Homo sapiens: one gene and its partners. The protein of the gene in region 4 purifies or fractionates together with the protein of the main gene of each other region. This does not show direct contact. Each region holds a gene or a part of one and is shown on either strand. Other genes may lie near its edges.

Region 1 (7,753 bases), on a different chromosome or scaffold from region 4:
AAGATTCAACAGATTTGATGGTTTGAAGAATGAAATGGACAGAAAAAAGAATGGTGTGAAATACAGAAGTAGGTTCTACAGGAAAACTGAGCAGGGGGTGGGGGTCCTATGCTTAAGAATTACTATTGGATTTTTCTCAGCAGAGATTTCGCAAGGTAAATAGAAAATGCAGACCCAAGAGGACTCTAAATAGCCTTGCATTTCCCGCAGTTCCCCTCTCATCTCCCCAGAGACAGGAAGCAAATATGGGACATTTGTAAAGAACAGGGGACAGATTTTACCTGCTTGTGGTGCCCAGACTTGGTTGCCGCTTGCAGTGAGGGGAATGAAGAGAAGAGATTTCGAAGGAGCAGACAGAAGGACCATGCTGGCTCCAAATGGATAGGACTCTGCCCACCGAGTAGGGCAGAGAACAGAAGACCTTGTCTGCTATGGAGGCTGGAGACCGTAACCCTTTCAGGCCCTGTGTAAACTGGGTCATGAAGAGCCTCTGCATGGTAGGCATGTGGCTGGAGAAGCTCCGTTTTTTTGTCCAGATTCGGTAACATCCTGGGGAACAAAGTGCTAGAAGTGTGTGAAGGCCAAGGACAGAGCAGTCTGCTCTGGTCTGGACTATGGCAGTGCCTCCATAGTCTTGGAGAGGAGCTGGAGGCTGGGGAGGAGCCTGAGTGTGGGTCTGACTATGGACGCCAGTGTCTTCCCTGAATGTTGCCATCCCAGGGCAACCGTGGGACAAGAAGAAAGAAAAGGTCCACTTGGGAGGTTGAGACGGGCACTGGAGGGCCTCTCCTAAGGCAAGCCTTGCCGGAGCACAGTGCTCAGGAAAAGTCCTTGAGGACTCAGTCGTGCAATCTGAGCTGGATGATTTCACATGAAAGGATACTGGGAAGATTTCAGAACCAAACAGCAGGGACGGCATCTTGTTGCTCAAATCTATGAAGGTCATCTTGATGGATTCGAGAGAATAAAGTGCCATGGGCTTACTGTTAGGCCTCTTATCCCATCCACTAGCTGCCAAATATGGATTCAGCTGCTCTGTGCTGGATGAAAATCCGTCCAGGAGTCTTTTATATCTGAGGCGCTTGTAGCTTTTAGCCATTGGAAGAAGTTCAGAGGAACACCGTCGGTATCTTAGCTTCTGAGTCTTCATGGCTGGGGCCAGTTTGGAGGCAAGGATGGACAGCTTGTTTAGTAAGGCTGATTCTTTGGTAGTCTTCCTAAAATTCAGGCTCCTCAAGGGATGGCACGGTGTAGACATCTGCTTTGGTATGTGACTAACCAAGCTCTTGGTAGGTGCTGTTTCAGGTTCTAATCGTGTAGGTGCAGACAGAGTACACAAACTGAGAAGTCTGTGCGCTTTTGTGGGGATGGGATTGGAAGAACTCTTTAAAAAGGCAGAACTTCTGATTTTACCTATTTTTCTCCCAACAATGATTTGCTCCTGATAGGAAACTTTCTTACAAGTTCGATGGGGCTGCTTCTTTAAGGGAAGAACTCCTTTCTTCGCAAAGGCACCATGTATTTGATCACACCCAGCAGAGGAGGGGTCTTGTGCTTTCCGAGGGGCACCAAGAAGGCAAGGACTTGTGCATGACTCAGTGTCCTTCCTTAATGGATGATGTAACCTTTCCTCCTTCTGGTCTTCTAACTTCTGAGTCTGTGCCACAATGCTGTCCTTGGCCAGCTTTGCTAGGGTGATTTCATTGATCATGGTGGACTCATCTTTGTCAGCCTTCGGTTGGTTCTGATTTTGTGCATCATCTAACAACAGACTAGATGATATGCACTGTTGCGATATCGTATGTGCTTTTTGTTGACGTATATATTTCTCTTCTTTCTGCAACATGTAGTCCAAAACCTCAGGGCTCTGCTGTTTTTCAGCATGATTAAGTATCCCCCGGCATTTAAAATGGGTCTGAGAGATGTTGCTCACGGGATCGCCATCGCCAGTTTCTCTGGTAACCAACTCCTCAGATTGCTCCCCAACAGTTAAGTAACCCAGTCGTCCCCTCTGATGCTCTTCGGTTTCTTCTCCTTTCACTTTAATATCTGTTTTCACTGTCAAAGGCAAATGTCTGTCAGAGGAATTCTCGTGAGGGTGACAAGCTTTGCAAGCATTCTTTTCCACACAGGTACATACGCTGTCTCTGTCACTAGAATTACTCCAATCTCTTGATACTATTTCCTTCATCTCAGGAAGGACTGTGCAGTCCTTTACATTTTCACAAAGCATTTCACCATCTTTTGGTTTACAAAGATTTTTCAGGTCAGTTTCTTCACTGTTAACATTAGTTTCTGAATTTTCTTGAGAAGGCATTATTTCAATGGATTTCAGGCTTCTTAGGGAAACAGAGCTTTCATCATGGCAAGACATCGACTCTTTTGAGGAAATTCCAAAGGTACTTTCTTTGCCAAACTCAGAGTTTGGTTCTAGTCTTGATCCTTCAGTCATTTCTTGTGTTTCTCTGAGAGATGTTCCTTTATCTTGCTGTCCATAATGGCTATCATTTAAAGACAAATTTACTCTGCCCAATATTCTTTTATTTGGTTCATGATCTGCAACAGACTCCATCTCATGGGCACAAGAGTCTGGACACTTTTCCATTTCACAGTCTTTTAAAGATCTGCATACGTTTTCTTCACATGATTTTTTTATTTTGAGAAAGTCCACTGTAGAAGCAGCAGTAACTGGGAAATCTGAATCCTGACCAGTTGTTCCTGTATGTGCAGCATCCAGTTCTCTCCGAGACAAGGTACTCCTGGAGTCCTCTTGAAATGCCAGTTTCTCTTGCCTTGCACCACAATCCAGTAGATTAGATGCCTTCACGTCCAGCACACCTTCTGCAAGCTTATTACTACAGTCCGTGTAGACGATGTCTACCATACCTTCTGTGGACTCATCACAACCAGACATCTTGACAAAGGCTCCTTTCAAATTGCATTTCTTTGGACTACCACAAGGTAGTGAGTTATTACTGCCTGAGCTGACCAGCAGATCCTTTTGGTTGTGGTTTACCTCCCCGTGAGGCTCGGTGACAGTCTCTCTCTGGTCACTACTTAGCATCTCCTTGGCTGACTGACCTTCACTTTTGCATTCATCTGGTCTGTTTTGGTTACTCTGACAGTCAAGGACTTCATCTGCCTTCTGATCGAGTGTTTCAACTGATTTTACATTTTTAAAACTGGAGAACATAACAGTAGGAGACTGGTCCAACACTTTTTCAGGACCTGGAATGTTTACAGTCTGGTTTAGTTCTTGTATAGCATGATCAGAGATGTTATACTTACAAAATACAGTTTCTTTGGATACATCCTGCTCCTTTCCTTCCAGCCCTTCCTCACTGAGTTTGATGCTACTGGAGGTGTGAATGGTTTTGTTTGAAATTCCACTATTTAACAAGCCTGCTACCATTTTGTTTCTGATCTTATCTCCTGGAAGGCTGCCATTCGTTTCTTTCCCATCAAGTTCCCTTTCCTGTGATGTGTAACTCACTTTACAGCTGCTTTTTTCCACAGAGTGTCCTGTTCCTTGGCAGCAGTGATCACGGTGCTGAAATGCATTTTCATATTTTGTTATCAAAGAGTTATCAACTTGCAGGCTGATTTTGCTGGACTTGAAAGCAGCAGAAGCAGAACACATGTTTTCCTGGGATACATTTTTTCTTACACGATGACAGCTAGAGATATCCTGAGATTGAACGCTGTGACATTCTATGACAGAGACCACTTGAGGAAAGCCAGCTGCTTCTCTCTTATTTGAGCGCAGCCTGGAATGTAGAGCTTTTGTTCCTGAATCAGCCATTTCCTTTTTTCTCTCTAGGCTTACTGGTTTGATGTTTAAGGTGGGACAGTTTGAAGAGGCACCACAGGTTTGGTTACCTGGTGGAGAGATGTCTTTTATTTTTGTCTGAATGGGAATGGTTTGTATATCAGCAATGACATCTGCTCTACCCTCTAATGGAGGGTGATGGCTCTGATGGGCATCTCTGCCTGTTGCTAAAGGCATCTCTTTGTTTAAATGCAGTAGAGAGTCAGTTGGCAAATTTGCATGTTCTTGAGAATTAAGGGACACTTGTTGATTTAAAACACATTCACTTTCTACTTTGTTTACAACCAGTTCATTGGTACAAGAAAGTTCATTCATCTCACAGGCTATGCTCTGTTCATCTAAAAGTGGAATATCATCATGTGAGGTCTGTATAACTTTTTCTGACTCAGGTCTGTAATCAAATTCTGGGGATGGTAGCAACAGAGCAGTACCTTGCTTGGGTTTTAATACCTCACTTACAGGACTTATTTGATCCTCTGGCATTAAACTCACAATGGATTTTCTTTCAAACAGAAAATCATTACATGATGCTTCATTTAACTGGGTGTTGCCTTCCAGATTTCTCTGGATGCTGACTAAGGAGTTACAGTCTTTAGTGTAAAAAGATTTACTTAATATATTGGGCTCTACAGGGGTTGTCTGTCCTGCCTCTTCAATCTGCATCAAGGAGGAAAAACTGCTTTCTTCAGAGTGTCCACCAGGATGGCTCATATTAGTAAAAGTTTCTTTATGGTCCTCAGGGTTTGTCAAGTTACCTTGAACGTGTACAGTAATTTTCAAATCATTTTTATTTAACATTACTTCTGTGGCTTCAGTAAAAGAATTGGGCATTAAAGAACTAGAGTTCCCTGTATGGAGACTGTCTTGAATGCAGTTATTGTGGATATTTTCCTTTGGAGAAACAACAGGCTCTTTTTCACCAGAACAACGACCACTAATCTCCTTTTCTGGTTCCCTGGCATTAAAAAGAAAAGGTCCACCTCTTTCACTCCTAGGAATCAAAAGCCGTTCCTCATTTTCTTCTCTAGAAGCCAAGTTCTTCCCTTGATCATCCCCCCTATAAAAATAAGAACTGTCTGTCTTTTCAGCAGATCTCTTTAGCAAACCACCACCTTCAAAACCACAGTTTTCTAAGGATATTGTTCTGGATTCTGGACCAGACAAGTCTGATGTGAAACATGAAACTTCAGAATTTTCTTTCAAAGGGCTTGTGGCTGTGGGACTATCATGTGTAGAACTGGGTTGTTCATTATGGTGGCCATGAAGCTGTTGGTGATTGTCATCTGCTTCACAGACCAGGTTTGGTTTACACAACTCTTCCTTCCCATTGTCCACATTAGAAATGGCACTGTTTCCTGGTAATGACAACCAAGGACAACTTTTTAATTCTTCACATTCTTTTTCTTTAGGAGTTGCTTCTGTTAATACAGGGTCCACAAAGGTTAAAGGTTCTGGGGTAACTAATGTGCTGGTTTCTGAAACCTCATCACTGGTCATGATTTTGTCTACTTCTTGGAATTCACCGCATCCAGCTGAGAGATCTTTACTCACATTGCCATTTTTGTGTCCTTCATTATTATCCGTCTTAGTCCCATTGACCTTCATACCTTGTACTTCGGCGGATTTTAGCAGAGTTTCAGCTGTAATCTGTACATTTCCTTCTGAATAAGAGAAATAAATCCAAATTAATATGCAGTAATAAAAAATCACTTGGTCTACCTTCATGCATTTTATTATGCTATGCTACCAAGGGCAACAGAAGACCCAACTCAAAAAGAAAACTGGAAAGTTAGCATGCTATACCATTGATTTTGTTCTTCTCTGAAAATATAACAGAGGGCCAAAACTATATCTGGCAGAAACGTAATTTTCAACAAATGCCTCTTGCTGAAAGTTTAATACAGAGTTCACAGATCAATGCTGGACAACTGAATACAACATAGAAATATGTTCCTATGTTGTATTCTCATTCAGTCTTAAGAGGCTTTCATTTTAAAACATTAATAAAGCAGACTCACAATAACAGCTTATTTTACTAGATGACCATGTTCTCAGTACTTGAAATTAGATGTCATCGATAAAATTAGTCCTTGGAAAAAAACAACTATACCTAAAACTTTATTTATTTATTTACCTATTTATTTTTTTCAGACAGAGTCTTGCTCTGTTGCCCATGCTGGAGTACAGTAGTGCGATCTCAGTTCACTGCAACCTCCACCTCTCAGCTCAAGCAATTTTCCCGCCTCAGCCTCCTGAGTAGCTGGGATTCTAGGTGCCTGCAACCACCCCCAGCTAATTTTTTTTTTTTTTTTTTGAGATGGAGTCTTGCTCTTGTCGCCCAGGCTGGAGTGCAGTGGCACGATATTGGCTCACTGCAACCTCCACTTCCTGGGTTCAAGCAATTCTCCTGCTTCAGCCTCCTGAGTAGCTGGGATTACAGGCACCCGCCACCATGCCCGCCTAATTTTTGTAGTTTTAGTAGAGACGGAGTTTCACCATGTTGGCCAGGCTGGTCTCGAACTCCTGACCTCAGGTGACCCGCCTGCCTCGGCCTCCCAAAGTGCTGAGACTACAGGCATAAGCCACCACGCCCGGCCCGCCCAGCTAATTTTTTGGGGGGGTTTTTGTTTTTGTTTTTGTTTTGAGACAGAGTCTTGCTTTGTCGCCCAGGCTGGAGTGCAGTGGCGCAATCTCGGCTCACTGCAACCTCCGCCTCCCGGGTTCATGCCATTCTCCTGCCTCAGCCTCCCGAGTAGCTGGGACTACAGACGCCCACCACCACACCTGGCTAATTTCTTTTTGTATTTTTAGTACAGACAGGGTTTCACCATGTTAGGATGGTCTTGATCTCCTGACCTCATGATCCGCCCACCTTGGCCTTCCAAAGTGCTGGGATTACAGGCGTGAGCCACCACGCCCGGCCTGCCCAGCTAATTTTTTTGTATTTTTACTAGAGACGGGGTTTCACCATGTTGGCCAGGCTGGTCTCAAACTCTCGACCTCAGGTGATCTCCTATTAGTTCTGTTCCCCTAAGAGAACCCTGACTAGCACACTATACACATGAACATGGGTATATGTACACATGATTTTATATATATATATAAAAAACAGGACAACTGTATTAAACAGAAAAAGCAAAATGCAAATCTATTTAAAGATCGGCCAGGCATGGTGGCTCATGCCTGTAATCCCAGCATTTTGGGAGGCCGAGGTGGATGGATCACACGAGGTCAGGAGTTCAAGACTAGCCTGGCCAACATGACAAAAACCCATCTCTACCGAAAATACAAAAATTAGCTGGGCATGGTGGCACATGCCTGTAATCCCAGCTACTGGGGAGGCTGAAGCAGGGGAATCGCTTGAATCCAGGAGGCGGAGGTTGCAGTGAGCCAAGATCATGCCACTACACTCTAGCCTGGGTGACAGAGCAAGACTCTGTCTCAAAAAACAAAGAACAAAACAAAACAAAACAAAACAATCTAATTCCTGAGTTTGATGCAGTACCTCACAATGGTGACCCCAGCACTTTGGGAGGCTGAGGCAGAAGGAATGCTTGAGCCCAGAAGTTTGAACCAGCCTGGGCAACACAAGGAGACTCTGTCTCTACAAAAAATTTAAAAGAAAAAAAAAAATCAGCTGAGCATGGTGGTGTGTGCCTTTAATCCCAGCTACTTGGGAGGCTGAGGCAGGAGGATGCTTGAGCCCAGGACGTCAAGGCTGCAATAAGCTGTGATTGCACTACTGCACTCCAGCCTGGGTAACAGAGTAAGCGACCTTGTCTCAAAAAAAAGAAAAAAAAAAAAGAACAAAAAATCTAAAATCTAATTCTTACTAGAATGTAAACTCTGTGAGGGTAAGGATCTTGTTTTGTTCTCTTCCTTATAGTTCAGCATAATGCCTGGTATATAAAAGCACAAGAGCAC
Region 2 (8,550 bases), on a different chromosome or scaffold from region 4:
CAGTATTTTTCAAATAAGTAAAACAAAAAATGGGAGTCCCCTTCGAGTGTTTCATCAAAGAAAGTGCATTCGCAGAGTATGTACTGTGAGCCAACCTGTTGTCTGATTAGTTTAGACCTGTTGCCCAAGAACATAAAATGGTGAAAATGTAAAAGCTGGTTGAGTTAAGGCACTACTTAGTAGTAAACTGATGTTTGAATTCAACTGCTGGAAAAATGAGTTCTATGAATATTCATTTTAAAGAATTATGAGGGCCAGGTGCAGTGGCTCACGCCTGTAATCCCAGCACTTTGGGAGGTTGAGGCAGGTGGATCAACTGAGGTCAGGAGTTCAAGACCGCCTGGCCAACATGGTGAAACCCTGTCTCTACTAAAAATACAAAATTAACCAGGCATGGTGGCGTGTGCCTGTAATACCAGCTACTTTGGAGGCTGAGGCAGGAGAATCACTTGAACCCGGGAGGCAGAGGTTGCAGTGATCTGAGATAGCGCCACTGCACTCCAGCCTGGGTGACAGGAGCAAAAATCTGTCTCAAAAAAAAAAAAAAAGGATTACGAGTAATCTATGAAGTATTTTAGGCACCCTAACTTCAGCTTGCGAGGAGCGAGTGAAGGGTCTGTTCCACAGGTAAATGAGGATCTGGTGTTAAACAGAAAAGTTAACATACTCTTCAGTTCTCATCCTACACGTAAAGTATAGATATTATGCAGCACACAGCACTTGGACAATCTTTTCCTCCTTTCTTTAAAAAATAATTTACAAAATAATTCCTTAAATCAGTAGCTGCCGAAGTATCATTTTTTTCTCTTCCTTTTGAGGCTCAGGTTTCTTTCATTTCAAAACATATTCTTGAAGACTTAAGTTCTTCCTTTAAGAAAGATTTAATTATTTAACTCAGAAAGAGGGGCAAAAAGTCAGGAGGTGAAACCTGAGACAGTCCTATTAGTCTTACATAACTTAAAGTTGGAACTGATTCAGTAGCTCAGCTAAAAACCTGAGGTTTAGGCACAAAGATGAGCTCTTTAGTATACTCTCCACAAACATAAATAAACAGTTTTTAAAAATGGAAAGGATCTTAATTTCTTTCTTCACTTCTTAAAATAAAAGCACATACATGTATAGTAACTTACGATACTAACATAAAAATACTAAATTGGTTACGCTTAAAATGAAAAGCACTGAATTCATCGTATCACATTTAAGTAATGCTATAATTGACAGAATAGGGTATAATTTCAGAAAGTAAGTTTATTTCCTAACACTAACTTTTGAATAGCACCTCTGTAAGTATGCATTAAGTACTTAATAAGTGCTGCAGGGAACATCAAAAAGTGATTTTCAAACGCAATATGTGTATGTTCTCCAACTTGTAAAAAAAACTCTGAAAATATATAAAGTTACAGTTGTTCATGCTTAATTAAATTAGCTTTGATTATTGCAAATTACTCCTCCAAGGGCAAGTATGTATCAAACCTTTCAAAAATCTTAGGTTTATATCAGCAATTATCCTTACTAGAAAGGTCCTGATCTGAACTCACCTAAAGCTATGTGTTAACTACATTTCACCACTAAGACACTTGAGCCCCGGGATAATAATGGCCACGGATTCCCCGAATTGCTTCGAGAACTGCTGCTTGCTTAATAAAGCGCTGAACTGTGAATTCACCTTTCTAAACAGACTAAAAGCAAGACGCCAAGTTTCACTATCTAGTTTGGGATTTCACTGGGAATGACCACGTTATCAAGATGCCATAGCCCTCCTGAGGCTTTTAATTACAATACCTTCTCTGTTTTCCATTCAACCACCTCAATCAAATTTCCACTAGAACCAGGCACACAAACAGTTGATTCGTGGCTTTGCGCAAAGCCTCCTCTGGATGCAAACCCTGGGATCCTGCATACATTAGTCCTCTCAGGGAGGGCAAAAGGGGAAAAAAAGTTTGTTAAACAATGCCGCTGGACAATGTGGTGACATTACCTTGCCCGTCTTGTGATCAAACCAGACGAGAGCGTGGTTCCTTGATAGCACTTTGCAATCAAAAGTGGCATTATTCTGCGCTGGTCGACAGCGGGCCACTGAGCGGCCGATTTTGATGGGCTCGTCCAGGTAGACATGACGCTCCTGAAACGGGTGCGAGTTCGGGCGGCAAGTGAAGATGGCCAAGGCTGACGGCATCGAGGATAGACTGGGGGTGTCTCTCCTACCAGGGACAAAGAGGAGTTCCTCCGGATCCGGACTGCCCTTCACAAGCCTATGCCCCTATCCCACCCAAAATTTTAAATTAACACAAACTGCACATTGTCTAAGCATAACCAGTGAACATCAACTCTTCACTTGGGTGGGAAGACAAGCCAGCGCAAGCCCCATCACCTCCTTTAAAACGCTGCAACGCCGTGATCACAAAAAGTCCCCAACTGGCAGCTTTCAGTCCATCTTCTTCTCTGGGAAGAAAAGGCTCAAACATCGGGCAGCTTCGGCCAAGAAAACTCCTGGAACACAGTTTGGGGACTGGAGGTATCCAAGCAGATGAGTCACACGCCAATTCTTGTGTTTGGTTTGAGATCGCGGCCGCTTTTCCCCCTTGGTGGCGGAAACGTTGCAGCACTGCAGCATGAATGAAGGGTCGGTTCGGCGCGGCCAGGAAAGTCCTTTTGGGCCGAAGGAAGGTGTGGCTGGGCACCTCTGGGCAGCCACCGCCAGTCCTCGCCCGGAGTGAAGGGGCGAGAGGTGACGGAGACGGAGGGGCTCTAGACGGCCGGCGGGACAGTCTGCATCGCCCCTGCTGAGCGGAGGCCGCCCCGGGAAGGGGGACGCGGTCCCCGGCCTGGCACGATCCGAGACGGCGGTGGCTGAGGTTCTCCGCGCGAGGCGTGGAGGCCGGCGGGGCGCGGGCAGTGGCCAAGTCGGGACTCCTGGGCACCTGGCGAGCGTCCCCGCGACCAGGGCGGGGACCCGGCTCCGCAGGCCGGTGCGGACCGAGCGAGGCGCGACACCGGGAGGCTCGAGTTCCCAGGCGGCAGGAAGTTGGTCCCCGGACGCCTAGGCTTCTGGGCCGCCGCTCAGCACATGGGCCGCCTCCCCTCAGGGTCGCCCCCGCGAGGGTCGCATCTCAGGGACGGCAGCCGCAGCTCCCGGCGGACGAGAAGGTGGGGGAGGGAGACTGGCCCGGAGGTTGGGGAGAGGCCTTGAGGCCCCGGGCTGGATCCGCCGCAGCCTCCACCGATCGCGGCCGATGGGGCAAGCTCAAGCTGCGCCCGACGAGGCAGGAAACTTTCCGACCTGGTGGGGAAAACATCAAAACAAACGGCCGTCAGGCGCCTCAGCCCGCCCGCCTCAGCCGTCGCCCCCTCCAGCCAGACCCCCGCCAGCCCACACCGCTAGGCACGACCTCCGCCGACCTCTCCGCAAGCAGGCTACGAGGATTTGGAGCCAGGACGCCACGACGGGTCCTACCTCCCTAGCCGCCACCACCGCCTCAGCTTACCTTGCCAGCGCCGGCCGCCATAGTGACTCTGACTGAAACCTACCCGGTGCACCGCCACGGGAACGCGCACCCTTCAAGGGCCCTCCTACCCCCTCTCCCGCGCCGTAGTCCAGGAATGTCACGTGAACGACGCCACGGAAGCCGTGTTGGTAGAGGGCAGAAAAAAGGGCAAGGTAATTTTTAACGGGCCTCCAGGCGCCATCTTAGTTAAGGGCTGGAAGCTTCAAACCTCGGGACAACCTTAACGACCATTTTGGTTAAGGGCAAGAACAATTTGCGCCGTAGAAGGTTTTTCAAACAAACAGTGCCACCTTCTTATTTTATCTACTTAGCAAGGGGGTGCCAACTTTTACTAAATTTTATTCTGTTTAATTCTCGATGAAAATACTAGCGAGCAAAAGAACAGACCCAGCCAAAGGAGATGGTCATTAGCAGCCATCTTAGCTGTGGGCAACACAGTCACCCGCAGCTACCTTAAGTGTGAGCCGCCAAACTCCCTGAAGTCTTAGGATTTGTGCACCTAACAGAAGGACCATTCTCCCCTCTGCTAAATTCGTTATGTTTTCTTCCCGGAAAAAAAAAATCTTAGTTCCCGCATTCCATTTCGAATGACAGTCTTTCTCACTGAACCTATTATGTGCCCCCAGGGCTCCTGCGCGGATTCTTCCACAGAAGGAGCGTCCAGAAAGTTTAAAATCATGTTTCTTCCAAAGAGAGATTGAATAATTTCCAAAGTGAAAAAAGAGGGTATTTCCCCCACTTACAATATCAAGATGAGGAGTCATTGGTCTAAAGAAGGAAGACTTTGCAAGGGCTAAATGAAAACTTTAAGAAAAAATAGTGAGAAGGAGACTTACTCATTTAGAATCAAAGGTGACTTCATTCTTCAGATTCCTGCAATAACAGGCTCCACCACTGTGTGACCTTAAGCAAGTTTCTAAACTTTTTCAAGCCTCTTTTTTCTCATGGATGACATGTTAATAATAGTTAATTCACTTGATGTGGTGAGACTTCAAAATGTTAATCCATGTTGTTCAATAAAGAGTAGCAATTAGGCCGGGCGCGGTGGCTCACGCCTGTAATCCCAGCACTTTGGGGGGGCCGAGGCAGGCGGATCACCTGAGGTCGGGAGTTTGAGACCAGCCTGACCAACATGGAGAAACCCCGTCTCTACTAAAAATACATAATTAGCCGGGCGTGGTGGCGCATGCCTGTAATCCCAGCTACTTGGGAGGCTGAGGCAGGAGAATCACTTGAACCCGGGAGGCGGAGGTTGCGGTGAGCCAAGATCGCGCCATTGCAGTCCAGCCTGGGCAACAAGAGTGAAACTGTCTCTCCAAAAAAAAAAAAAAAAAGAAAGAAAGAAAGAAAAAGTAGCAGTTATTCATCTCAATACTTATATAGACAGTTTGGCCGTGTCCTAGGTTTTTGCTGGGCCCTGGGGACACATAACTGAACCAAACTTCAATTCCTGCCTTCTGAGATCATAACGGTATTGTGGGTTAGAAATGAGGGTAGGGAGTGACAAACATGAAATTGATGTAATCAGGGCTAAGATAGAGGCAGGCACTAGCTGCCCAAGGGGTCAGGGATGGTCTGGGAGAAGTAACTGAACTGAATGAAGGAAGATAGGAAAACCACAATAAATATGGTATTCGCTGAATGGTTTCATGAATTTCCACAAACACGGATAGCAAGGAAAAGAAGGAGCCTACTTGAAACAGTGCACCAATGTGCCGGCACATAATAGTGGATAAATAAGTATTTGATGCATGAATGAAAATTACATACTGTTACTCATTATTAGAGGATAAAGTAGGCGGGACACAAAGTGAGTCTGGAAAGAATAGGCATTATATAATAAAGACGTTATATTCGTTTTTCAAGCTCTTCATCAATTCAACAAATATGTGTCAAGCTACCACTGTGTTCCAGGTATGCTATTCAAAATGAGGATATGTTGGAAAGCTTTCTTATGAGAGGATGAAAAGTTTTCACTTCTGATAACTTTTAGGCTGTTAAGGAATAAAATAAGATAGGACCCTCCACAGATCCCTAATGAGTTTTTTTTGCACGAATAGCAAGTCATTTATGCATTCTTTCATACATTCATTCTATAAACATTTAATTGATACTGTGAAATAGATATTTTGAAAGGTCCTGGAAATACAATAATGAAGAAACAAAAAGACTCCCTCAAGTTGCTCGATTTAGGTGATGACACAGAAAGATCCTTGCTGTAATGGAGTATGTCAAGAGTAGTGGAAACATGGCAGAGTAGTTTAAACTGAAACTTGAAAGGATTAGAACAGCTAGTCTGATGCTATTGGGATAAAGAAATTTTAAGCTAAGAAGCAATCCCAACAAAAGTCCAGAGACTTGAGAGAACAGGACTTTAAGGGAATTGCAAGTAGGTTCGTATCACCAGAGCATAAGAGATAAGGGAAAACGAGGAGAAAGAGTGACAGAAGTGAGGTTTCAGTTGCTGAAGGACTTCTAGGCAATGCACCAGACTTCAGAACATTTCCATCTTCCTCCTAGAAGATCAAAGAGAAGTAATGAAAGTCAAGGTGCTGGAATCAGACATGGCATACTTTTACCAGCACCATAAATGGTAAATTATTTAGCTTCCCTAAATTTCAGCTTCCTTATCTGAAAAAAAAAAAAGCATATATCTACTGCACTTGACTAGTCTTTTTTTTAAAAAAAAAAAAAAGGGGTTGGGAAGGGGGAAGGAAAAAGGTAGATAATACCTTACAGAGTCTTCTTAGGATTAAATAAAACAATGGAATACAAAATGCCAACCATGGTGGCTGGGAAATAGTAGACACTCACAGAATGTTAATATTTATCATTATTGCTCATAGAAAGAATTCCCCCAGCCTTCCACATATAGTAAGGAGCAAGTTGTTTTATCTCTAGTTTGTATATAGAGAAACTTAATCATACATATGGAAACAAAAAAAGTCTGTTTATATTCAGTTCTACTATAATATCTCTTAAAATTAATGTTAAGCAGAGTGGACTTTCTTCTACAAGAAAAGCTGGGACTACTATAACATGTCAGGATAAAGAATCCTATCAAGCTACACAGGGTGCTAGAAATGCCAAAATGGCATTGAAGGCATTCTTCACCCACTGGTATTCAGCAGGCACAGAAAAGGCTTAAATTAAGAAATCTCATACATGAGATACTTTGAATTCTAAGTCATGTGGGTGTTCCTCTCTGTGATTCTGTATCCACACAAAATTTTTATTAAATAAAAAACATGTCATATTTTGAGAAATTGGGAATGGCAATGTTTCCTGATTTTGTAGTTCTCTCCCTTTTTAAGTTTCTGCCTTTTTATAGTCTGATGAGTATTGCCACTGCTATGATCCAAGCCACTTTTCAATCTTATAAAAGCAAAGACAGACTTGTAAAATTATCATCCTAGTACCATCAAAGATGGGCAATTATTAGCATTTCTGATGTGTAGGAGACAACTCTGTAAACTCTACTAATAAGCAGCCCTTTCTAATTAATAATGATCTAATTGGACTTTGACCAATGACATACACTTGGTATATAATAAATTATGGAACACTTGCATAACTGTTTCAGCAGAGTACCTGGATTGCAAATATAGGTAAGCAAACCAATTAAGAGAAAGCTGGGAGTACTCAAAGCCCAAAATTGAGAGTATATAACATTTTTAGTGGCACACACTGGCTTATTACAACTGAAGTTAGGTCCTCTTCCCACTAAGGAAAGCTCTCTTCATCAGGGAGATTCTAATGAGTGGAAATACCCTGTCATTTCCCAGGTGCCCAGGGTGGAGTAGCCCAGACATTCCAGAGGCACTGCTCATATGTTTGTGGCTTCCTGGTTATTCAGGAAATAAAAGAAAAGTAACTACCTGAAGACAAATGAAGACATTAAGTTCATTTAGCAACCTTTTTCTGTGAATATAAAAGGAGGGAATCACAATATTATAACTCCAGAAAGAATCATAGACAACAAATCCAGCTTCCACATTTTACAGGCAAGGAAATTGAGGCTCAGAGAAGGAACTTTAATGATTGTGTATTTACCATGTGGTTAGCATTTTCCTCATGACATCTCTGTGTATTAAGTATTAACCTTATTTTATAGGTAAGTAAGGAAACTAAGGCTCAGGCTCAAACATTAAGAAAAACATTAAGAATCTTAATATTCGATTGAGTGACTGAAAATAAGTCACCATGCTAGATCCAAAGTACATGCTGGGGTTTTTTCTTTCTAAAAATTATCTTTATTTTTATTTATTTATTTTTTGACAATATCTTGCTCTGTCACCTAGGCTGGAGTGCAATGGCACAATCACGGCTCACTGTAGCCTCAACCTCCCCAGCCCAACCAATCTTTCCACCTCAGCCTCCTTAGTAGGCATGTGCCACAGGCATGTGCCACCGCCATACCCAGCTAATTTATTTTTGTTTATTAATTTTTTCTTTTCTGTATACCTCGGATCCCCTGTGTTGCTTAGGCTGGTCTCAAACCCATGGGCTCAAGTGATCCTCCTGTCCGGCCTCCCATAGTGCTGGGATTATAGGCATGAGCCACCATGCCGGCCCCGACTGATTTTTTTGATTGATAAAAGAAACACATGCTCATTGCATATATTCAGGTAAGCAAAAATGAGGAAAGTAAAAGTCCTCTCTAGCCCCATCACAAATACTTAGTCTAATGCTACTGTTAACAATTTGTTAGCTGTATTCTTCCAGATGCTATTCTAAGCCACATGAAGCATGCCCTTTTAAAAATACCACATTTATTAGAAGTGGGAAGGTCAACACTAAGGGCCTTATTCTTAAAAGTGATAAATAATTTATATCAATAGCAAAAGGCCTGTATTGGGGCACGGGGACGAGGAAGGGAAGAAATTATGCTATTTTTTGTCACTCTTGTATAAGTCCCCTTTTGATTACTGGAAGTATCTGCTTGTTTTTTATAACTAATTTGAGAATGTTACTTGGAATGTAGCAAATGCTTAAGAGTAAAAGGGCTGGGTCAGAAAACCCCATGAGGCATTTTCTTTCTGAA
Region 3 (7,747 bases), on a different chromosome or scaffold from region 4:
AGGTGTCTTCATTGAAAGACTATCAAATATTTCGAAGTAAAGCCACGCCAGGTCCTTGGCCAACTGCAGCTTCCCACAAGCGATGTGCCTCCATGTAGACCAGTAGAGGCGCGGGTAAGCTCCTTCTGTGGCCCGGATTTGCACATAGGTGGATATCTTCCTGAGATAGTGAAGACTAAACTTGGATGGAGGGGGGACCTGCAAGGCACCCACTATAAAGGGTTCTGCTTTCACCCAGAGGAGAACTCTGGACTGATCCATATTATCTCTAAGGACATCAGGGTGAAAAGGCTTCTTTGCATACCTAGGAAACAAAGTTTCTTCATAAACTGATTTGAAACAAGTCTCATTTATGCATTTTTTCTTGGAAGGTGACCCCTCTCTCTCAACTGTGTCATATGTACTACATCATCATCTTAAAAGGCAGCTCTAGTTCACCAACCAAGAGCAGAACAGTTTTTTTAATCAGATCTCATTATAATCTGAGAAAAAAATTGTGATAAAACAAAATTATCTTACTTGAATTGTTAGAAATCCTTGTTTTAGGAAGTGTGTGTAGATGCATGAAGTCTGAGTGAGATCCCAGGAAGAAAATGAATGAGGGGAAAAAAGTCATCCTATCACAGGAAACCTTTTTCTACTCTGAGGGGGAACACTGTTCAAAATAAGGGAAATACATTTCACAGAGTTAAATCACTTACACAGAAGACAGTTGGTTAAAGATCTGGACATGTTAGCTGAGCATATAAATTCAATATGAAGTGCTAATGTGAGGCAGCAGGCAAGAATGCTAATGTAAATGTAGACTGCAAGAATAGATCAGGAGAAGTTACAGCATCTTTATTCTCTATAACAGTGAACCCACTCTAGCATATTTGATCCTGCTCAGTTCAGGTGTGATTTTTTAGATTTTTTTTTGTTGTAACAATGATACATGATTTTTATGGAATATTTATAAAATACAAAAACAGGGAACCATCCACAATCCCACAAGTAAAGGGCAACAAATTAATATTTTATTGTATTTCCTTCTTCTTCTTCTTTTTTTTTTTTTTTTTTTGAGATGGAGTTTCCCTCTGTTGCCCAGGCTAGAGTGCAGTGGCATGATCTCAGCTCACTGCAACCTCCACCTCCCAGGTTCAAGCGATTCTCATGCCTCAGCCTCCCCAGTAGCTGGGACTACAGGCGTCCACCACCACACCTGGCTAATTTTTGTATTTTTAGTAGAGATGGGGTTTAACTATGTTGGCCAGGCTGATCTCAAATTCCTGACCTCAAGTGATCCCTCGCCTCAGCTTCCCAAAGTGCTAGGATTACAGGCTTGAGCCACTATGCCTGGCCTCTTTGTCTTTTTTCTACACATAAATTAGATGTTAGTTTTTGAATTTTCACAGTTGTGATGTTACATACACAATTCTGTACTGTTTCAAAAGCTTTATAGTATTCTAAATAAATGTATCCCATTTTATTCAACTCTTCTCCCATTTTTAGACACCTTACTAGGTTTCAGATTTTTCACAAAAACAACATAGGCAAAATACTGATCATTATTGAAGTGGGGTAATGGGTACGTGGGGGGCTCACTGATTCTATTTTTGTGTATGTTAAAAAATTTCATTACAAAAGTTCAAATGTTGTCACAAGTGTAAATAATGCTATCACTACCATCTTTCTTCATATTTTCTGCATTACGAATTATTTCTGTGTGAAAATTTTCAGATGTACTTTTGTGAAATTAAGTAATTGACATTTCTAAAGCTTGTGAAATATATCCTTGTTGCTTCCAAATGATTTTATCAAATTGTACCATCCTTTGACTCTGGTACCTACTTCACTGTGCACTCCTCAACATTAGCAACATCATTTTTTTAAAAATATAAAAACTAATTTAAAAAATCAATTATATGACTGATGAAAATTTTATTGCTATTATTATATTTTGCATTTGATTCTAAGAAAACTGTGCTTCTCTCTTTTTTTTTTTTTTGAGACGGAGTCTCGCTCTGTTGCCCAGGCTGGAGTGCAATAGCTCGATCTCGGCTCATTGCAACCTCCACCTCCCAGGTTCAAACGATTCTCCTGCCTCAGCCTCTCAAGTAGCTGGGATTACAGGCTCCCGCCACCACGCCAGGCTAATTTTTGTATTTTTTTAGTACAGACAGGGTTTCACCATGTTGGCCAGGCTGGTCTTGAACTCCCTGACCTCAGGTGATCCGCCTGCCTTGGCCTTCCAAAGTGCTGGGATTACAGGCGTGACCCACCGCACCCGGCCTGCCAACTGTGCCTCTCTCGAGAATCATCTGTTCGGAAAAATAACTGACATCAATCGAGTGCTTACTATGTACCAGGTATCATGCTCATGATTTTGCATACTTCACCTCCTTTCATCCTCACAACCACCTGGAGATACAGTACTTAAGACTGTACACATTTTCGATGAAAAAAAAATGAGGCTTAGCGAAGTTAAGGGATTTCCCTAAGGACACCTACTTAGCTGGCACAGCTCTAGATTAGGATTCAGGTCTGACTTGAGAACTGCATTACTATAAATGTACTCTAGGAATCCAGTTTTGGGAGAATCTCTTAAAAACGGGAGTGGATCCAGAAGAGAATTTCCAGAATAAAGAGTCTTAGACAGGAAGCCAGGTGAAAGAACCAGGGAGAGTAAACTCAAAAGAAGGGCGTGGAAGGGCAAAAGGCAGCTGTCTTCCAATGTGGAGAGACTGGAGTCGTTTTGAGTAAAACCAGACGATAAAAGTTAGGCGAGGAAGACCTCGGTTCTCTCCAAAATGTAAAGAGGCTGCTCTGTGAGGTACTGAGCCCCTGTCAACAGCCAGATCCCAGAGATGAGCCCTCCATTCTAACTCCGAGAATCGAGAGGGCTCAATCCGTAAACAAACATAAACTGGGGCTCTGACCCTGGCGGTGCCCTGAGGTTAAGGTTTTTCAGGTCGGGAGATCGGCGTGGGTCCAAGGCGGCTGTCCTGGGGCTTCGCCGCCACCTTGGACGCGATCCGGGGTGGGACTCTGCGTGGGCCGCCCCAGCGTCGCGACCGGACTTCAGGAACACAGACGCTCACGCTGACAGGGTCGGTAGCTGACCCGAGACGCGGTAAGCGCGAAGGCAGCCTCCTCGACCCAAGCCTGAAGCCTGACTAACCCACACCGCCCTCCCCGGCGCACCCAGTGCGCGGTTACCTGCTAATGCAGGCGCCGCTCCGCCGCACTTCTCCGCGCGCCGCCGCGCCCGGCGTCCGCTCGCTGGGCCCGCCCCTCACCCTCCTCCGCGCGCCGCTGCCGTGCCCACTGCGCAAGCGCGAGGCCCCGCACCACCGAGACCTGGCGGACCCCGTTGCTAGAGCGGCAGATTGCGGCTCAAGCGTCTGAGAAAATCTAGGCTGGGGTCGAGAGTCCGCAACAGTGGCACCTGGAGCCAGACCCACCGCTTTCTGGTGTCGCGCCTTTCAACCCGGGGGGGTAGGAAGCTTTCTGTTGCTCCGCATAACTGTGGTCAGCTAATAGCTGCTGGTAAGATCAGCACGCTTTCATCAGAAATGCTACTAATACTAATGGCAGTTTGCATTTATAGAGCACTTACTATGGTCTCAGCACTGTGTAAAGCAACTTTATGTGTATTTCCTAAGTCTTGTCAAGAGCCCTTTAAGTACATTCGTTTTACTGATGAAGAAACTAGGGCCTAGAAAGGTGAAAATAACACAACCCTAAGGTCACACAAGAGATGGAGCCAAGATTCAAGCCCAGGGCGTCTGAAGCAAGACTGGCACTCCCTGCCGCCCCTCGGTGTCAGCTCCTTAACTCTGTTAGCTTTCCTGCCGTGTTTCCACCTTCATGAAGCTTTTTCAGATTACCGGGCAGAAGCCATCACTCCTTCCTTTAAACTTCCATTTCAGAATTTCTGGACATTTCCTGCTTTTTTTAGTTCCTTTATGGCCTCTCTAGGTGTGATAGATACAAAGGTAAATTAGACCGTAAAATGCAATTTAGTTCCTCTTTTGTGTGGCCATTGTCCCTACTGGGTATCTTCCTGAAAGCAGGGGCTTCAAATTTACACATACCTGGGTTAGGATCCAGGCTGCACCACTTATTAGCTCAGTGACCCTGCTGTTACTTGTTGAGTACCACTGTGTGTCTGGCACAGTGGTACGCACTAGAATGACAGAAGTGAACAAAACAGACAAGGTCCTTGCTTTCTTGGAGTGTATAACAGGGAGAATAGACAATACATATTAAGGAATAAAATAAGATAATTTCAAATAGTGAAAAATGCTATGAAAATTGGGGCGGGGGGTCAGGGAAGGCCACTTTGTGGTGCCAAATTTGAGCTGAGGCCTGAAGAGTAAGAAGCCAGCCATACAATGATCACCATCCCAGTAACTTTGACTCAAAAGTACTTCAGCACCTACTCCATGCCAGGCACTGTTCTAAGGTGCTCTTTTATACAGCTGTGAACAGAACAATATAGATTCATGCTCTCATGAAACTGGCATTTCAGTGTGTAAGTCTAGGGACCAGGGATGAAAAAAATAGGAGGCCGGGCGTGGTGGCTCATGCCTATAATCCCAGCAGTTTGGGAGGCTGAGGCGGGTGGATCACTTGAGGTCAGGAGTTCGAGACCAGCCTGGCCAACATGGTTAAACCCAGTCTCTACTAAAAATACAAAAAAATTAGACGGACATGGTGGTGTGCGCCTGTAGTCCCAGCTACTCGGGAGGCTGAGGCAGGAGAATCGCTTGAACCCAGGAGGCGGAGGTTGCAGTGAGCCAAGATCACGCTACTGCTCTCCAGCCTGGGCGACAGAGCGAGACTCTGTCTCAGGAAAAAAAAAGAAATAAAGAAAAGAAAACAGGGTGGTGTAAGAGTAAGGAACTCAGTAGGGGCTAATTTTGATTAATTGGTCAGGGAAAGTCCTCCCTGAGGTGGCGACCTTTAAGCTGATATATGAGTTAAAGAAGGAATCACCCATGCTAGCACATGAGGGAGAGTACAGTGTTTCAGGCAAAGGCAATAGCTAGCACAAAGGCCCTCGGCAGGAATGAGCTCGGTGTATACAAAAAAAAGAAAGGAAGCAAGTTTTGCTGGAGCATGGTTAGGAGTATAATAGGTTTACAAAGCATAAACGGCTTTGTAAACTAGCATGGAGTTGGGATTTTATTCTAAGTGCAAATGAAGAGCCATTCCAGGCTTTTAAACAGGGGAGTGACATGATTTGACTTTTATTTTTTATTTATTTATTTATTTATTTATTTTGAAACGGTGTGTCACTCTGTCGCCCAGGCTGGAGTGCAGTGGCAGGAACTCGGCTCACTGCAACCTCCACCTCCCAGGTTCAAGCAATTCTCCTGCCTCAGGCTCCCGAGCAGCTGGGGTTACAGGCGCTCGCCACCACACCTGGCTAATTTTTGTAGTTTTAGTAGAGACAGGGTTTCATCATGTTGGCCAGCCTGGTCTCAAGCTCCTGACCTCAGGTGCTCCGCCCGTCTCGGCCTCGCAAAGTGCTGATTACACTTTGGGTGGGTGAGCCACCGCGCCCGGGCTTTTTTTTTTTTTTTTTAAATCATGGAGTGAGGGACAGGGATGAGCAACATATATTAAGATATTAAGGAAGATATTAAGAGTGGGGGCAAGGAGGCCAGTTAGGAGGCCCTGGCCAGGTGAGAGATACACTGTGACCCAGAATCCTGGTAATGGAGATGTAGTGAACAGATTGAAGTATAGTTCAGAGGTAAAGAGTTGGATAGCTTATGCATGAAAGGAATAAAAACACCTAGAGCTTTGTCCTGATCAACTAGGTGTTGTGTAACTGCGATGAGCAAAATCGGGGGGAAGATGGGGAATCAAAGAGTTCTGCTTGAACCGTAATAATGGTTTTTACTCGTTGCCTGCTTACTATACGCCCGATGATTTACCGATTTTTTTCCCTGTTAAAATTCACAGAACTGCCAATAAGTGCTTTGCCTCAGTTTTGTTGATAAACTTAGGCTCAGACTTGGGAGGAGGGGAGGGGTGGGGGGTCTCACCACTAAGAAGCGGTGGAAGCCGAATCCGAACTTAAGTCGGTCTGTCATCACTGTAGCCTTTCCGAGACAGTTGTCTTATGGAGTTGCTTGGAGAACGTAAAATAAGAGGCCTAAGCAATGCGTCTGATGTACACCTGTCGTGGAATAACTGTTCCCGCTCATTCGGCCGCTGTACCTCTGCTCCCTCATTCGGAGCGTAGCTGGGTATGAATGAAATTCCGGGCTTGTAGCACAGAGAAAACTTCTCTCCCACAATTGGTTGGTGCTGGGGAGGAAGCTCCTGATTGGTGGAAAGTCCGAGGAAGTGGGCAAGCCGGAGGGATTTCGTGTACCTCAGGTGCCCTCACTCTGACCGGCCCCCTATCATTACGTAATTTTCTACGACTCGCGGTAGCTCAGGCAGAGCGGGTTCCTGCAGCGGCGCGACCCTCTGACGTCTCCGCTTCTAATTGGTCAAGAGCTGCGACTGCAGTTCTGAAGCCTAACTGGTTGCCCGTGCCGCCTCGGAGGTGAAGTGTACTGCGCTGATTGGCTTCCAGGCGCCGGCCGCGTGTGATGTCCCGGGCAACGATTGGCTCTCGCCTACCGGGGGCTTCTCTCACCGGGACTCGGGACTCCCGGGAAGTGGACCGGCAGAAGAGGGGGCTAGCTAGCTGTCTCTGCGGACCAAGGAGACCCCCGCGCCCCCCCGGTGTGAGGCGGCCTCACAGGGCCGGGTGGGCTGGCGAGCCGACGCGGCGGCGGAGGAGGCTGTGAGGAGTGTGTGGAACAGGACCCGGGACAGAGGAACCATGGCTCCGCAGAACCTGAGCACCTTTTGCCTGTTGCTGCTATACCTCATCGGGGCGGTGATTGCCGGGTGAGGAACAGACACTCGCAGACAACGGGGCCTGTGGGTCAGCCTTTGCTGGGGGGTGGGAGGGGGTGGGGGAAGTGGCATTGCCAGACTGACGGAGTGGAGAGGGGCATCGCTGTGGGTTGGCGGGGTGGCGGAGGAAGGGGTAGTATGGGCCAGGCTAGTGGGGTGAGAGGAGAACCGTGGGTGACACCAGTGAGAGGGCCTTAGGTCCAGAGAGGGTCTTAGGTAGAGCTAGATTTGCCCAGAGGAGTGGGAGTTGGATGCATTGCCAAACGGCATTTGGGGGATGAGGGAAAGAAGGTGGTTGCGAGCTGAAGCAGTGTCACGTAGAGCTGGGGAAGAAAGAGGGATGCCTGACTGTAAGGAAAGATAGTGACAGTGCCAGGCTGAGGTTGAGGGGATGGACGTTTGTTTGATCAAAGAGGTGAGTTGCTGTGCCCCGCTGAGGTGGAGAAGCGGACGATGCTCTATGCCAAGCCTTCGAAGAGCCATTCTGGGGCTGACATTAAAGTGGGTGGATGATGCCAGCCCGAGTTGGGACTGAACGAAATTGGATGCGGGATGGGAACAAGAAGATCTTTAGACAGCCCTTGTACTTCCCAGCTTCTTGAGCTATTTATTATCTTAAGTTGCTTCATCTTTAACATTCTGGCAGTGCTACTGTTAGGACATTTATGTGGCATAATCTTTTTAAAGAAGGAAAATCATCCTTTGAGAGTGTTATTTGACTTTTAGAAAAGTCAAAATCATTTGGAGCCAGTATAGGGAAAGGGGGGAAGAGTTAATTTGATTATATGGTTATTGCCTAAAGATAACATGAGACCATAAAATAAGGAAGTGGTTTTCTTGA
Region 4 (8,461 bases):
AGCTTTGCTGTTTTGTTCCCTACTGTATGTCTAGTATCTAAAACAGAGTCTGGCACACAGGAGGTGCTGATAAATATTTGCTGAACAAATAAATCAAGACTACAGGATTTCATGTCCCATGTTCCTTCTAGTATCCTGAACTGTCTCAGACACAATTAAAATGTCTGGCATATGAATATAATCAGCAACCGTGTGTCCCACCCCAGATTCTATTCCACCCTTAGGTCCTACTTCCTTTCCTGGCTCCTTCATTTCTCAGCTGCACAGCTTTGGCCATGTTATTTATGGTGCTTCAGTTTCCTCATCTGGAAAATGTGGACAAGGACAGGACCTACTTCAAAGAGTGATTGTGAGAATTCAGTAAGATCGTCAGTGATATTCCTCTGTACTGTACCTAACATAGAGCAAGCACCCAATAATTTGTTACGCAGATGGTTTAAGTCAGAGGTCAGCAATTTTTTCCCTGCAAAGGGTTAGACAGCAAATATTTGAAGCTTTGCGGCCATCTCTGTTACAACCATGCAACTCTGGGCTGTAGCACAAAAGCAGCCATAGGAGCTTCCAGACAGATGAACACCTCGCGGTTCCTGGGGGGTGGAATGCCTAGGGAGGGCATGGAAGCTCCACACAACTTCCCCCACACCTCACCCTGCATGTGTCTTCATCTGTATCCTTTGCAATATTCTTTAGAATAAACCGGTAAGCTGCCTAGCTCTGATCCTGGCACAAAGACATCTCCCTACAAATGTCTGCTGGTTAGTGGATGGATGGATGAATGAAAAGATGGGAGGATAGATAGCTGAAGGAAGTGATCCTGGAGTTAAAAAAAACAAAAAACTGGCCGGGCATAGTGGCTCACGCCTGTAATTCCAGCACTTTCGGAGGCCGAGGCAGGAGGATCACCTGAGATCAGGAGTCTGAGACCAGCCTGGCCAACACCGGGAAACCCAGTCTCTTCTAAAAACACACACACAAAAATCAGCCAGGCGTGGTGGCCTGCGTCTGTAGTCCCAGCTACTCAAGAGGCTGAGGCAGGAGAATTGCTTGAACCCGGGAGGTGGAGGTTGCAGTGAGCAAAGATCGCGTCAGTGCACTCCAGCCTGGGAAACAGAGCAACAAGACTCCGTCTCAAAAAAAGAAGAAAAAAAAAAAAAGGCCATTACATATCTGTTCCCTCTTCCTGGGAGGCTCTCCCCCACCTTCTTTCAATCTCTTCTCAAACTCTGCATCCTCAGAGGGGCCTTGCCTGATTGGCCTTCTTAAAATGGATCTGCCCCACCCCACTTTGTACTTGCTGTGCCCTCTGCTTTCAGGCGTGTTCTCAAACAGGATCTCAACAAGGCCTCCCCTGACCACACTTTAAAACTGCATGCCCTATATATACCCCATCTCTCTTATTTTTATTTGTCTCCCTAATGCTTATCCCCAGTATACTCTGTTTATTGTCTGTCTCTCCTCACTACAAAATAAACTCCCCAAGGCCTAGAGTTTTTTCTGTCTTGTTCCTGCTATATACCAGTGCTTAGAACAGCGCCCTGCACAGAATAGAGGCCCAATTCAATATGGATTCGCTACCACTACATCCTATTTGTTTCCTTCCCATCACTTTTCAAACACTCATCTATTCAGCTCTGCTGACCTGTTTCACATCTGGATCCTGTATAGCAACTGGTGTCTCCACTATATCCCCAGCATCATATCTCATACATGGCATATATTTACTGAACAAAAGAATTCATACAACCGCCCTATGAACTAGGTAATTAACCCCATTAAAGAGAAGAGGAAACAGGCCTAGAGAGATTAACTAACTTGCCCTTGTCAATCAGTAACAAGTGGAAGGGCCGGGAATACAACCACAACCTGTATGCCACCAGAAACAGTGATATACCAGGAACCTAGGAGGCGAGACCCACGTTTGGCAGGTTACCCAGTGCACCTTGTCCAATTTTATAAATGGGAAAACAGACCTAAAGGGAGGATGGGACCTCTTTAATCACCACTCCCAATAATTACAGCTAATATTTATCGAGCCCTTACAACAGGCCTGACACCATTCTACTTTTTATTTGTGTCATAATTCGTTCAGTCCCTCACAAGTCCCTCCAGCAAGACCAGGACTACAATTAGCCCATATTTTATGGAACACAGAGACCCAAAGCGGTGAAGTAATTTGCACAAGGTCACACAGCAGGTGGGAGGTGGACTTGCAGTTCTAACTGTTCTCAATCCCACACCAGCCCGGCTCAGAGCCTTGGGTCACCTCATCCCATAACCAGGAATGTTCATCCGGGCTGGGCGCGGTGGCTCACGCCTGTAATTCCAACACTTTGGGAGGCCGAGGCGGGTGGATCGCTTGAGGTCAAGAGTTCCCGACCAAGCCTGGCCAACATGGTGAAACCCCGTCTCTGCTAAAAATACAAAAATTAGTCGGGCGTGGTGGCTCGCGCCGGTAATCGCAGCTAATTAGGGAGCTGAGGGGCGAGGATGGTTTGAACCCGGTATGCAGAGGTTGCACTGAGCCGAGATCGCGCCACTGCTCCCCAGCCCCAGCCTGGGCGACACAGAGACTGTCTCAAAAAAAAGAAATAAATAAATGTTCATCTGCTTAGCAAATCCCTCAACCCCTATCCTGGTCAATGGGAGGATCCGGGGAGATGGGGAGGCGGGTTTCTACAACCTAATTCGCTCCTAAACTTGGCTAGTCCCCACCTTTGGTGGGGGGGTGTTTTTGCGTCCCCGTCCTCTTAGGACACCTAAACCAAAATGAGAGGCGGAGGAAGAGCAGGAATTAGGATGGCAGGCCTTCGCCTCTCGGTCCCCACTTGGCCCAGCAGTCGAAACCCAGAAAACAAAAAAACCTTCCCAGGTCCCGACCCACCCGGCGGCCCTCCCCTACTTGGAGCAAGTCATGCGCGCCCCACATCCCCAAGAGGCCATTCAGAGGCCGCCGCCAATCACGGAGTCCTCCTCTCTCCCAGACCCAGTCCGCAGACCCCAGCCCTGGCCACAACCTCCCAGGACCGCGGACCGCCGCGCGCACAGGGCAGGCCCGGGACCCTCGAGGCTAGCGCTGGCCCCCGCCCTCCACTGGGCCGACACCCAATCGGGAGCGCCGTCTCAAGGAGTCCGGGCAACCGGGGAGATAAGAGACGCACGCTGATTGGCCGTCGCCCCCTTCCGCCACTCCCAGCGAACGCTGAGTCTTCTCCGCGAGGGCCGCCCGTGCCCCCAGGTACCCCTCCGCGTCTTCCCCAAGTCCCCCGTAGCCTCCGGACCTGAACGTCCTCATTGCGGAGTTCGTCTATGAGCACCGCGATGGGGTACAGCGAGTCGTCGCCGTCGGCCGCCGCCATCTTGGCTCCGTCCCTTTCCTGTCAGACTGCGGCCAGCGCTGTGCTGAAACGTGGGGGGGGCAATGCTGGGAGAAGAAGGAAGGGCGGGCGTGGGGGCGCCCGAGCCAGTTTACAGGGGCTGCTCCACGGCCATTGGCCGCGCTACCCAGGGCTAAGCTCGCGTTTCTTTGGTCCGGACTTGTGAAGTCCCGCCCACTTCCGATTTGCCATTGGTCGAGTGAACAAGATTTGACTAGTTTGAGCCTAGGAGAGGGGGAAGAAAGCGGAAGTTAGCCGTGTCCTAGCGACCAAGATTGTACCCGCCCTGGTCGCTGCTAACAACGACCGAGACGAGCAGTAGTTTCTAGCCAATGAGGGGCGACATGGGGAGGAGGCTAAGCCTGCCCTTTCTTGAGTCCCCGGGAAGGCTTCTGCGCGTGCGTCGGTGGTAATACGTGACGTCCTGTGGGGAGCTGGAGGGTGTGCAGGTTTTGGGTTACCAGGCCGTGGTTCCGCTGGCTGGCTGGCTGGCTCTCCGCGCCGTTGCGCGGCAGGAGGAGGGAGTGAGACTTTGATTTGTGCTTGATTTATGCCAAGGCCCAGAGAAGGGAGCGACTTGCCCTTCTCTCTTTTTTCTTTTTCTTTCTTTTTTTTTTTTTTTTTTTTTTACTTTTTTAAAGACAGGGTCTCGCTCTGTTGCCCAGACTGTAGTGCAGTGGCAGGATCTTGGCTCACTGCCGCCTGGACCTCCCCGAGCTCAAATGATCCTCTCGCCTCAGCCTGCAGAAATAGCTGGGACTATCGGCGCGCGCCGCTAGGCCCGGCCAATTTTTAAAAAAATGTTTGTGGAGACCGAGTCTCACTGTGTTGAGCTCAGTTGCCTTGCTGTTTGGATGAAACCCAAGCCCCTCGGGCTGGTATTCAATACCCTGTCTAGGCGCGTCTCCCATCTGTTTTTTACCTTTTATCTGATGTCCTGGAGAATTACAGCTGCCTGAGCACTTCTTGCGTTTTCATGCCAGCAAGCCTCCTTGCCCAAGCTGTGCGTTCTGCTAGGGGTGCCTTTCATATTCACTTCTGAGATCTCTGCATAAATGCCTCCCCTTTACTCCCTTTCCTCTCTGTCTTCAGGCTCTGTTCTCTAGGCTTCCAGAGCCACAGAACCCCTCTCTCTGTCTCTCCAGTCCCATCTATCTCTCTGTCTCTCCAATCCCATCTCTCTCTCTCTCTCTCTCCAATCCAATCTCTCTCTCTGTCTCTCAATCCCAGAGCCTGGGCTGTGACTATGTATTCGAATTTGTTTCCTCCATAGAGTGGGAGCAGGATTGGATCTGACTAATCTCTGTTTTTAACCTCTTCAACACAGCCCTACCCCCCCACCGCAATCTTAGGACCACTCTAACTGAGGGAGTTGAATGGGGATGGGAAGGCCTGGGATGCTCTTTCCTCCTTTATTCTGCTACTTGAAGGGCTAGGCTGAGCTAGCACTCTGACAGATCTGAATACCCACAGCATCTATTTCTTTTTTCTTCTTTTTCTTTTTCTTTTTTTTTTTTTGAGACGGAGTCTCGCTCTGTTGCCCAGGCTAGAATGCAGGGGCCCGATCTCGGCATACTACAGCCTCTGTCTCCTGGGTTCAAACAATTATCCTGTCTCAGCCTCCAGAGTACCTGGGATTACAGGCGCCTACCACAACGCCCGGTTAATTTTTGTATTTTTAGTAGAGACGGGGTTTCACCACTTTGGGCCAGGCTGGTCTCAAACTCCTGACCTCAGGGTGATCTGCCTGCCTTGGCTTCCCAAAGTGCTGGGATTACAGGTGTGAGCCACCGCACCCGGCCTTTTTTTTGAGGCGGAGTTTCGCTCTTGTTGCCCCGGCTGAAGTGCAGTGGCTCAATCTCTGCTCACTGCAACCTCCACCTCTCGGGTTCAAGCGATTCTTCTGCCTCAGCCTCCGGAGTAGCTGGAATTTACAGGCATGAGCCACCACGCCCGGCTAATTTTGTATTTTTAGTAGAGACGGGGTTTCACCGTGTTGGCTGTCTTTGGTCTCGAACTCCTGACCTCAGGTGATCCGCCCACTTGGACTTCCCAGAGCGCTGGGATTACAGGTGTGAGCCACCGTGCCCGGCCCAGCATCTATTTCAAATACCCTTACCCACTGCAGTTAGGAAACTGCTGCTCATAAAAGTGGGGATGGGGTTGAATATTTCAGTCCCAGCCCTCCCTATTCCCAGGACTCCTCTCAGCCCCAAGGTCTCTGAGGCTAGGGATCTTTTTAGCTATGCGTGCCTGTCTTGGTGTCAGGCTGCTTGGGATGTTGGGCTGGTGGCCTTTGAAGTGCTTAGGGCCTAGGAATTTTCAGAGGCTTAAATGAGGCATTATAAATCTCAGAAACAAAATAAAAACAAATTATGGATTCCAAAATGCAAAACAAAACTGCAAACTTTAATAAGTATTTAACAAATACCTATACAAATCAATACCTATACAGATCAATACCTATACAGATCAATACCTATACAGATCAATACCTATACAAATCAATACCTATACAGATCAATGCCAGTGATAATAGCTACAGTAAAGTGTATTCAGTAAATTAATTCATTTAACCCTGACAATAACTCTATGATATATGTAAAGTAGCAGCATCATCCTAATTTAATGGATGAGGAAACCGAGGCATAGAGAACTTTAGGAATTTGTCCAAGTTCTCATAGATGGTAATAGTGGTGCTGGAATTTGTTTGTTTGTTTGAGACAGGGTCTTGCCTTGTTGCCTAGGCTGGGAGTGTAGGGACGCAATCTGTTCTGTGCTCAGTGCAGTCTTGATCTCCCAGGCTCAAGTGGTCCTCTCACCTCGGCCCCCCCAATGCCCGGTAGCTAAGACTAAAGGCATGTGTGACCATGCCCGGGTAATTTTTTAATTTTTGTAGAGACCCCTGGGGTCTCACTGTGTTGCCCAGGCTCGTCTCAAACTCCTGGGTTCAAATGATCCACCTGCCTTGGCTTCCCAAAGTGCTGGGGTTACAAACAGGAGCCACCCCACTCATCGGGTGCTGGAATTTGAACCTGGGCAGTCTGACTCCAAAGGCTTGCTTGACTAAAACTCAGCTTTAATATAATGATACAATCCAGGTGTGGTGGTGGCTCATGCTTGTAATCTGAACACTTTGAGAGTCCAAGGAGGAAGGATTGCTTGAAGCCAGGAGGTAAAGACCAGCCTGGGTAACATAGCAAGACCCCTGTCACTGCAAAAAAGAAAGAAAGTTTAGCCGGGAGTGGTGGCACATGCCTGTAGTACATCAGGTATATCCCTGTAGTACTCAGGAGGCAGAGGCAAGAGGATCACTTGAGCCCAAGAGATCGAGGCTGCAGTGAGCCATGATCACACCACTACACTCTAGCCTGGGCAACAGCCAAGACCCTGTCTCAAAAAAAATTAAAATAAAATAGAAATACATATATATGTGTATGTATATATATATATATATATATATATATATATATATATATATATACATACACACACACACACATATATATGTGTATATATATATATATACACACACATATATATGTATATATATAAAATATTTGATGGGGGATTTTGGATTATTTTACTATGCCTGAGTTCATAGTGGGGTGGGGTGTACAAATGCAAGAGATTCTGGGACTAGGAGACATTCCTGATGTTGGGTCTTGGGCTTTCCTAATCCTCAGTTTCCTTTTTTTTTTTTGAGATGGAGCTTCACTCTTGTTGCCCAGGCTGGAGTGCAATGGCGCGATCTCAGCTCACCGCAACCTCTGCCTCCCAGGTTCAAGCGATTCTCGTGCCTCAACTTCCCCAGTAGCTGTGATTACAGGCATGCGCCACCATGCCCAGCTAATTTTTGTATTATCAGTAGACATGGGGTTTCTCCATGTTGGTCAGGCTGGTCTCAAACTCCTGACCTCAGGTGATCCGTGCGCCTTGGCCTCCCAAAGTGCTGGGATTACAGGCGTGAGCCATCACACCTGGCCTTTTTTTTTTTTAATTTTAAAAATGTACAGACGGGGGTCTCACTATGTTGCCTAGGCTGGTCTCGAACTCCTGGGCTCAAGTGATCCGCCTTGGCCTCCCAAAGTGCTGGGATTACAGGTGTGAGCCACTGTGCCCGGCCCTGATCCTCAGTTTCTACATATGTAAAATAGGAAAGTCCACTATTTGATAGATTATTGCATAAAATATCGGACATACCAACTATGGATTATTAAAGAACTTTCATAAAAACCACTTAGATCTGTATGTATGGAGTAAGAGAAATGGGGACGATATATGTTGAATGGAAAGTGGAAGTTGCAACGTGTCTTAGTTCAGGCTGCTGTAACAAAATACCATAAACTGGGTAGCTTATAAACAACAGAAACTTATTTCTCACAGTTTGGGAGGCCAGGAAGTCTGAGATCAAGGCACCAGCAATTTAGCGTCTGGTGAGGGTCCACTTTCTGATTCGTAGATGGTGCCATCTAGCTGTGTCCTTCTCACATGGTGGAAGGGAGAAGCAAGTTCTATCAAGACTCTTATTTTATTTTTTATTTTCTTCTTTTTAAAATTTGAAACATCCAGCTACTGCACAATACTGGAATTTTTTTTAACAATTTTTTTTTTTTGGAGGAAAAAATGGTGAGATCCTGCCATAGGGTCTCACTATGTCACCCAGGCTGGAGTGCAGTGGCATGACCACAGCTCACTGCGGCCTCAAACTCCTGGGCTCAAGCAATCCTCCCACCTCAGCCTCCTGAGTAGCTGGGACTACAGGCATTCGCCGCCATGCCTAGCTAATTATTTACTTTTACTTTTTTGTGGAGACAGGGTCTCAAACTCCTGGCCCCAACTGATCCTCCCTCCTTGATCTCCCAAAGTCATGGGCTTACAGGTGTGAGCCACTGTGTCTGACAGAATTCTTATAAGGACACTAATCCCATTCATGAGGGCTCCACCATCATGACCTAATGACCTTCCCAAGGCCTTACTACTGAAAATACAGCTGTTGGAGAGGTTGAGACAGGAAAATCAGTTCAATCTGGGAGGCGGAGGTTGCAGTGAGCCAAGATGGCACCATTGCACTCCAGCCTCGGTGA

The links.
Region 1: the proteins of PPP2R1A (region 4) and PRR14L purify together in Homo sapiens (affinity purification with mass spectrometry; 5 studies listed by BioGRID and IntAct, with this or other methods). This does not show direct contact.
Region 2: the proteins of PPP2R1A (region 4) and SLMAP purify together in Homo sapiens (co-immunoprecipitation; 5 studies listed by BioGRID and IntAct, with this or other methods). This does not show direct contact.
Region 3: the proteins of PPP2R1A (region 4) and TBCCD1 purify together in Homo sapiens (affinity purification with mass spectrometry; 5 studies listed by BioGRID and IntAct, with this or other methods). This does not show direct contact.

Annotation. Positions count from the first base shown.
Region 1 is NC_000022.11:31,711,802-31,719,554, forward strand, and holds part of PRR14L (protein PRR14L), read right to left. Parts: intron 5,491-7,753; coding exon 282-5,490; intron 1-281.
Region 2 is NC_000003.12:57,751,278-57,759,827, reverse strand, and holds the start of SLMAP (sarcolemmal membrane-associated protein), read right to left. Parts: upstream 3,520-8,550; 5' UTR 3,486-3,519; intron 3,281-3,485; 5' UTR 2,177-3,280; coding exon 1,979-2,176; intron 1-1,978. UniProt on the Homo sapiens protein: Associates with the striatin-interacting phosphatase and kinase (STRIPAK) core complex, forming the extended (SIKE1:SLMAP)STRIPAK complex.
Region 3 is NC_000003.12:186,564,069-186,571,815, forward strand, and holds the start of TBCCD1 (TBCC domain-containing protein 1), read right to left. Parts: upstream 3,272-7,747; 5' UTR 3,199-3,271; intron 305-3,198; 5' UTR 262-304; coding exon 1-261. Other genes in the region: DNAJB11 (dnaJ homolog subfamily B member 11 isoform 1 precursor), read left to right, coding at 6,830-6,897. UniProt on the Homo sapiens protein: Plays a role in the regulation of centrosome and Golgi apparatus positioning, with consequences on cell shape and cell migration.
Region 4 is NC_000019.10:52,184,992-52,193,452, reverse strand, and holds the start of PPP2R1A (serine/threonine-protein phosphatase 2A 65 kDa regulatory subunit A alpha isoform), read right to left. Parts: upstream 3,402-8,461; 5' UTR 3,357-3,401; coding exon 3,279-3,356; intron 1-3,278. UniProt on the Homo sapiens protein: The PR65 subunit of protein phosphatase 2A serves as a scaffolding molecule to coordinate the assembly of the catalytic subunit and a variable regulatory B subunit.